Homo sapiens: one gene and its partner. The protein of the gene in region 2 purifies or fractionates together with the protein of the main gene of each other region. This does not show direct contact. Each region holds a gene or a part of one and is shown on either strand. Other genes may lie near its edges.

The links.
Region 1: the proteins of TM4SF20 (region 2) and CYP4F3 purify together in Homo sapiens (affinity purification with mass spectrometry; one large-scale study listed by BioGRID and IntAct). This does not show direct contact.

What each region holds. Positions count from the first base shown.
Region 1 is NC_000019.10:15,639,119-15,643,034, reverse strand, and holds the start of CYP4F3 (cytochrome P450 4F3), read right to left. Parts: upstream 2,139-3,916; 5' UTR 2,090-2,138; intron 1,724-2,089; exon of another isoform or gene 1,621-1,723; 5' UTR 1,620-1,620; coding exon 1,422-1,619; intron 1-1,421. UniProt on the Homo sapiens protein: A cytochrome P450 monooxygenase involved in the metabolism of various endogenous substrates, including fatty acids and their oxygenated derivatives (oxylipins).
Region 2 is NC_000002.12:227,377,084-227,380,999, forward strand, and holds the start of TM4SF20 (transmembrane 4 L6 family member 20), read right to left. Parts: upstream 2,224-3,916; 5' UTR 2,186-2,223; coding exon 2,003-2,185; intron 1-2,002. UniProt on the Homo sapiens protein: Polytopic transmembrane protein that inhibits regulated intramembrane proteolysis (RIP) of CREB3L1, inhibiting its activation and the induction of collagen synthesis.

The DNA of each region.
Region 1 (3,916 bases), on a different chromosome or scaffold from region 2:
ATCAATCATCTAGCTATCTATCCATCCATCTAATCTATCCATCCTACATATCCACTCTACCTATCTATCCACCTAATGTATCCATCTTATCTACTACTTTATGTATGTATTATCCATCCATCCATCCATCCATCCATCCATCCATCCATCTTATCCATGCATCCATCTGTCCATCCATCCATCTATCCTGTTATCTATCTATCTATCTGTCTATCTACCCACCTACTTATCCAGCCAGCCAGCCATCTATTCACCCTATCTGTGCATCCATCCATCCATCTATCCTATTACCTATCTATCTGTCTACATTCCTCCTGCTCTATCTCTCTTGGGGCCACCCCCAAGTCCCAAGAGCGCATCCCAAGGCAGAAGGAAAAGACACACTGTCCACTCACAGAGGCCCACTTAGCTTGAGAGGAAAAATTTCCTTGTTCTGGGAGTCATTTCAGCCCAGAGGTGGGCATATGAGGAGGTCCTCACAGGGGAGGTTTGTGGGGAGCAGTGTGGACTCAGGACATGTCCCTAAGGCTGGTCCCCACATCCCTTCATGCCCTGGCTGGTTCCTCCACCAGCCACACAGGTTCCAGTTCCTCCCATGGAGAAGGTTCTGCACACAGGGGACCTTCCCTTCTCAGCAGTCACTAGGGGAGCAGAGGTGACTCTAACTGTCCATCATGACAGTGGCTCCCACCTGGGAGAAGCTTCTGCACCAGGCTCTGTGCTAGTGCATCCTGTGCACCCTCCCACTTCACCTGTGGACACACCCATCAATCCTGCCATTTGCAATGAGCAGATTGAGACCACGTTCCGCAAAGGGGAGAGCAGGTCTAAGTCAGAGGGCAAGGTCTGGGGGAGGAGAAAGGTCAGGGAAGGCTTCTGAAAGGGGAAGTGAGTGGCCAACTTTTATGTGGGTTTGGCAACAGGACCCCATTGGGACATCTTACTGGGGAGGAACAAGATAAGAGGAAGGTGCCTCCGGATGTGGTGGAGGTGAGAGACAGCCCACACCTCTCCTCTGGCCCACCTATACCCTCATAAGAGGAAATAGGCCAGGTAGGGAGAGGACCCTGAACAGTGGGTACAGGAGGCCTCGAGTCCAGCAATGGAGAATGTGGGAACGCCAGGGGTTCACCTTTCTGTGCACCCAACCCCCTGCCCAAGAGCCCCGCAGAGGTGCATTAATGTGGAAAGACAGGCAGGAAAAGGATTCAACACAGGCCAAGAGTGGGAGAACAGGGAGGTGAGAAGGGCTTGGGTTGGCACCTCACAGAAATGAGTAAGCAGAGGAATGAGTAAGACGCCTCCCCTGCTTCTCTGCCACCCCAGACCCCAGCCCACCCCCTCTCACCTGAGCCTCATTCTTACCCCTCAGGAAGTCCATCCACCCTGAGACCCCAGACCCGTCCTGCTGCCACACTCACCAGGCCCAGGTGACCCAAGAACCAATTCCGTTTCGGGGGTTGCGGGAAACACCGGAGGCGGCAGCAGTTGTCATAGAAGGTATAGGTCCAGGCCAGGATGCGGGCCAGGAGCCAGGAGGCCCCAACCAGCAGCAGGAGCAGCCACGGGGATGCTGCCATTGGCCAAAGGCCCAGCGAGGACAGGCTCAGCTGTGGCATCCTGCAGGGCAGATGGGGTGGTGAGTGAGGTCCTGAGGCCCAGGGAAGGGCCCAGGGAGCTCCAGGGACAGTGGAGAGAGGCAGAGACGGGCAGTGCTGGAGATAGAACAGTAAGAGTAAACAGGGATGGATAAACAGGGGCTGAGGGGTAAAGTCCAGAAAGGCCCAGCCAAAACCAGCAACCAAGTGGCCTCCAGTTACCCGGTAAGCACTTAGATTGAGAAAGACAGAGAAACTGATTAAAGTCCAGAAAGGCCCAGCCTGAATCATTAGGACGTTGCCAGGGGCTTGGTTTCAGTTAGAAAACCACTCATCCTCCAAGCCAGCAACCAGGAGCTGCCTGGGCCTTGGGCAGCAATGGAGAATGTGGGAAGGCTGGGGCTCCCCTATGTGTGCGCCCAATCCCTTGCCCAGTGCCCATCTCCATCACAGGCTAGGATGCCCCAGGCCCACCACCCCCACCCTGGCACCTTCTGTCAGGAGCACCTTGTCCCACACAACCTCCTCTCCCCTTCTTCTGGGAGGTTTTTTCCCCTGGCCCCTGATGTAGGGAAGGCTGTGGGAGGCTAGGCTGGGCTGGGCTGGGCCAGCCAATCCCCACAGCCTGGGTGCCGCTCCCATGTCTGGGCAGCTGGCCAAAACCTGGGTGTGGGAGACCAGCTGGATGCAGAGGAACCAGCTCAGGGTGACACAGCACAGGCACTGGATCCTCAGGTCTCAGCACCTCCCACATAAGGTGGAGAGTAAGCCGAGAGGGGTCAGATAGAGTTTCCACTGTGTGACACCTGCTCTTAAAGAGCACCTACTGAGTGTGTGGCAGATAAAAGCATGAACTTGAGAGTTCAGGTGTCAAGCGAGCCAGGCCAGGCCAAGCCTTGTTCCAGATCATCTCCTGTGCTCCTCTCTAACCCTGGGCCGGTAGGACACCGTGTACCACTTCTGGATGCTGAATCAGGCAACCTGGAAGAGACAAGCCTCTATCCCCCTGCTGCTGGATGGAGTTCAAGTCTTGCCTCCAGGCAGTCCAGGGCCCTGTTGGAGACCTGACTGCTAGGAACGGGAACAAAGAATCCAGCCCCACTGAGGATTACCTGGGTCAGATTCTGGAGATTAAGAGCTCAGCTGGAAAAGCAAATCTGGAGGCCGGACTCAGTATAGGAGGACAGAGCGGGGACGTGGAGGGTTAGGATGAGAGGGAACGGATGGGGTCCAGGCAGGGGAAGGGCAGAGCCAGGGAACCATGAATGGAGTCCTCATTCTGCCTCATCCTTGCTCTGACTTTGGTCAGTACTGCCCCTCCTGGGTGCAGTCTTCCCATCTGGGAAATGGGATGTTCGATGAGGGCCTTAGCGGGGGACAATGAGGGCTCCTAAGAGGAGGGAGCCCCAAAAAGGAGTGAAGGGAAAGGGTGGCAACTAGCACTTGAGCTGCTGTGTGCCAGTCTCTACTCTGCACAAAGGCTGCATGGAAAGTACTTCTACTGTGTGCCAATACTCTAAATGAAGGGCAGCTACTGTGTGCCAGGTGCTAAATCCTGTCTACTCTGTGCCAAGTGCTTTCCATAAAGTGTGCCTACTGTGTGCCAGGTGCTCTACATTAACCCTGTATACTCAGTTCCTGATATTCCTCATAGAGTGCCTACTGTGTGCCACCTGCTCTACATAGTGAGTGCCTATTGAGTGCCACCCCCTGTATATGAAGAGTGCCCACTGAGCACCAGTTGCTGTCTACATAACACATGCCTACTGAGTGCCAAGTGCTCTACATAAACAGTGCCTACTGATACCACCTGCTCTATATGGTGACTTCCTACTGAGTGTTTCCTGATCTACATAAAGAGGGTCTATTGAGTGCTGCCTGCTCGAGTGTTGCCTGTGCTCCATAAAGTGTACCTACTGTGGGCTGCCTTCTGTACATAAAGGGTGCCTACTGAGTGCTGCTTGCTCTACATGAAGAGTTCCTACTCTTGCCTGCGCTACATAAAAAGTGCCTACTCAGTACCACCTGCAATACATAAAGAGTGCCTACTGGCCAGGCACAGTAGCTCATGCCTGTAATCCAAGCACTTTGGGAGGCCAAGGCAGGCAGATCATCTGAGGTCGGGAGTTCAAGACCAGCCTGGCCAACATGGTGAAACCCCATCTCTACTAAAAATACAAAAATTAGCCGGGCGTGGTGGCGGGCACCTATGATCCCAGCTACTCGGGAGGCTGAGGCAGGAGAATCTCATGAACCCGGGAGGCAGAGTTTGCAGTGAGCTGAGTTCATACCACTGCACTCCAGCCTGGGCAACAGAG
Region 2 (3,916 bases):
ATGTGTCATCGCCACCTCCGACTCCTTTAATGCTAATACATTTTTTTTAATCTCATGGGATTTGTGGCAGAGCCAATTTATATCTAAAGCTGCATGTGTTATTCTAAGTGGATTGTCTTAACTCAGGAACTTCTAGGAGCTTCATGGAAATTGCTATCGTTAAGTCATGCTCAGCCAGCTGCTCCTGGCTTCTGGTGTAAGCAAATGCAAAAGAGGCTTCTACTACTCAAGCAGAGAGAAGCCTTCTACAGGGAAGAAAACAGACACACGGATGTACAGTTGCTTCATGCTGTTGAGTTGCAATGTGTTTTCTGTCTCTCAGCCTGGAAGAGAGCATTCATGGCAGTGTGAAGAAATAGCCCAAAACTTTCCAAAAGCTTTTTCTTTAATTAGATCTTTCTACCTAAAGCAGAGGAACAGATTCTTTGTGATGGTAAAGGAAGAGTGTTTTTGTAAATCTGGGGATAATACCAGCAGCAGTAACTGATCATAATTCAGAATCAGTGATTCAAGTAGAAAACTATGTCCTGAATTTCTTTAAAAATCACCTCCACAGCCATAAAAAAGGAATGAGATCATGACCTTTGCAGGGACATGGATGGAGCTGGAGGCCATTATCCTTAAACTAACGCATGAACAGAAAACCAAAAACCGCATGTTCTCACTTGTAAGCGGGAGGTAAATGATGAGAACACATGAGCACATAAAAGGGAACAACACACACTGGTGCCTGTTGGAGGGTGGAGAGTGGAGGGTGGGAGGAGGGAGAGGATCAGGCAAAATAAATAATGGGTAGTAGGCTTAATATCTGGATGACGAAATAATCTGTACAACCAGCCCCCAAGATACACGTTTACCTATGTAACAAACCTGCACATGTACCTCTGAACTGAAAACTTAAAAAAAAAAGTTAAAAAAAAGTCACCTCCGTGTTTTATTATCTCTAAAACACTGATAATATCAGTCCTTACAGCTTACTCTCTCTCTCTCTCTCTGTCTTACACACACACACACACAGGCACACACACACATTCATTTATTTGGCACTAACTAAACCCCCTAGTGGCATAACAAACAAAAACAAGCCTCTTGGATGCTGAATTATCAACTTCAACATCCACATCCCCATTTTACACATATGGAAACAAAACCATAGGATAAATGATTTGCTTGCAGTGGTATATGGGAGGCAGAACCATAGCTGAGGTATTCTGCCATATTTGAAAGCCGTTTTCCCTATACAAATGCGTCCTACCCAGGCCTACTGCACCCAGAATTCTCAGGAGAAAATCCGTAAATCTAACTATTGCAAGTGCCTCGGGTGATTCATGTCAGTTATATTTAGGAGTTCCATCCTGCACTGCTCTGCTGCAGATTTCAACAGAGGTAGACCTAGTAACAATCACCAAACTATTCAACAAGCTCGATGTCCTAGGATCTATATAATAGCTGAGTCAAAAATTCCTTGAGGCCAGAGACCCAGGATTTTAAGTCCATGTCTCTTAGCCCAACTCCCTTCAGGTACAGGCAATGCAGCATTCATGCCTCGTAATTACCATCACCCAGGCTAGTCATCATACATGGGAATGTTTCTACTCATCCCTATTAAGCAACCTGTCACTCCTATTGCATTTTCTGTAAATACTTAGAGACTGGTATGGAGCAATGGAAAGTTGAAGGAATTAATTCAGAAGGTCCCTAACTCTAACCACAAAGCTTGAAAGAGCAGCCCTACCTGTACAGAAATGTGAGAGATAATAACCCAGCCAACTTCTACTAATTAATTTATTTTTTTGCCCAGCTCTCTATCCTATACCACATAGTGTACTTTATTTAAATTACCATTCTTCACTGATGACCAATATAAATTAATGCCATACTACTGCTCCAAATTTTATCATAAGCCAAGACATAGTTAACTGCAAGACTGGAAGACAGCTTTTAGGATTTTGGTGAAATAGGCAGGCCCTTCTTCACATCAAGTCAAATAAATATCACTCACCATCAGACCTGCTCCTATAATTCCTGGGAACCACCACTCAAAGCAAGAGATGGGGTTTTGAGAAAATTGGTCTTCCTCAACTAAGCTGACAATTAGAGGTATCGCATTGAGAACTACTCCTAACAGCAGTAGAACCAGCAGGCTGAATCCATTGCAGGATGTCCATCCTTCGCAGCAGGTCATGGTCACCCCTGGCTCAGAAACGTTGTCAAAGTGGCTATGCTTGCATGGTACTATGTTGCCTTTTATCCCAATCTTCTGGTTAAAATTTAACGCTAATAAAAAATGAATAGTGGAAAATAGTTCAGAGTCCAATAGGGTAGGACATTATTATGATGACTATGATGGGAAATGAGAAAATAATTCCATATTATGATGAGGTGAAGGAAGGAAAGCAGAAAAAAAAATCTATGAGATAAATTTATGTAAGAAGATAGGCTTACGATAAGCTCCTTTAATATACTCCTTTATTAGTATGGCTTCTAAAAAGTAAAAACAAAAATATCCAGCTAAACTATATTTTCCTGTTCTATCGATATTATTACCAGCTATGGAAGTTTCTTATTTTGAAATTGTTCAACAAGAAAATGAACACGTATGAGATGTGGAGAAAGGTATTTCCTCTGCTGCAAATATTAGAGTTTATTTCAAGCCGTATGCTCACATACACAAAAGAAAATGTTTATGTCATATTATTCCAGTGTTGCAGACTAACCCATTTAGAGATAGCCCACCTAAGACATGTGAGAGCTTTGGCTAATGCTACCAGACTGAAAGATAGCAATAGGAGAGAGATTGGATGAGGAGATTATCATATTTTATTTAAGCCCTTGAACACTTACTTGGCCATGTGCAGTACTTTACATCTCTAGACTGTGGTTCCACATTGCCTCTCCACTAGCTGGTGAGCTCCTTGAGAAAAGACTATCAGTTGGCATAAGCTTTAAAATACAAAAGTTCTGGCCAGCTGCGGTGGCTCACGCCTGTAATCTCAGTGCTTTGGGAGGCCAAAGCGAGAGGATCACCTGAGGTCAGGAGTTCGAGATCAGTCTGGCCAACATGGCAAAACCCTCATCTGTACCAAAAAAACAAAAAGTAGCCAAGCGTGGTGGCACATACCTGTGATCCCAGCTACTTGGGAGGCTGAGGCCAGAGAATCACTTGAACCTGGGGGGTGGAGGTTGCCATGAGCTGAGATTGCACCACTGCACCCCAGCCTGGGCGACAGAGGGAGACTCCATCTCAAAAAACAAAAACAATACAAAAGTTCTTGCTTATGCTGACTGACCATCCTGATCTAAATGGGGTCATGGTAGTTACTGAAAGACCTAGACTTAGACCTAGACCTAGACTGGCAGAGGCAGCTTCTTGATCCAGGCTTCCACAGTCACAGAGGCAGGGTACAAAAATGTGGTGAGCCACATACTGGATCTATATGTTTCTGCCCAGAAGCGACCCACATCACTTCTGTTCACATTTCATTGGCCAAAAAAGTCACTCAGTTATGCATGAGTTCAAGTGGGTGGAAATACAAACCAATATGTCTAGGAGAAAAGATTGGGACATTAGGCAGCTCTAATCTCTACAGCGCCTTCCTTCTGCTTCTGTGTAATCCCCCGCTCAGCCCAGAGCATAGATTCAGTGAGTGCTGTTGGGAATGGTGAAATAATGTATGCAGCGGTGCAGTCAGTGTGGGCCAAAAGCTCAGGCGTAGTAGGCTTAGAGAGCAGCGCTCCACCCTGCAGCAGTGTGGGGGGCGCACACAGCCTGGTACAAGGGGCATCCCTGGTAATGGACACCAAAACAGTAGCTCCAGACTAGGGGGTCCAGTTACTGGACCTCAGTGAAATGTGAAATCCTTTGTATGAAAGGATTTGTATAAAAGGATTAAAAATAACCCACCTATTGGCTGGG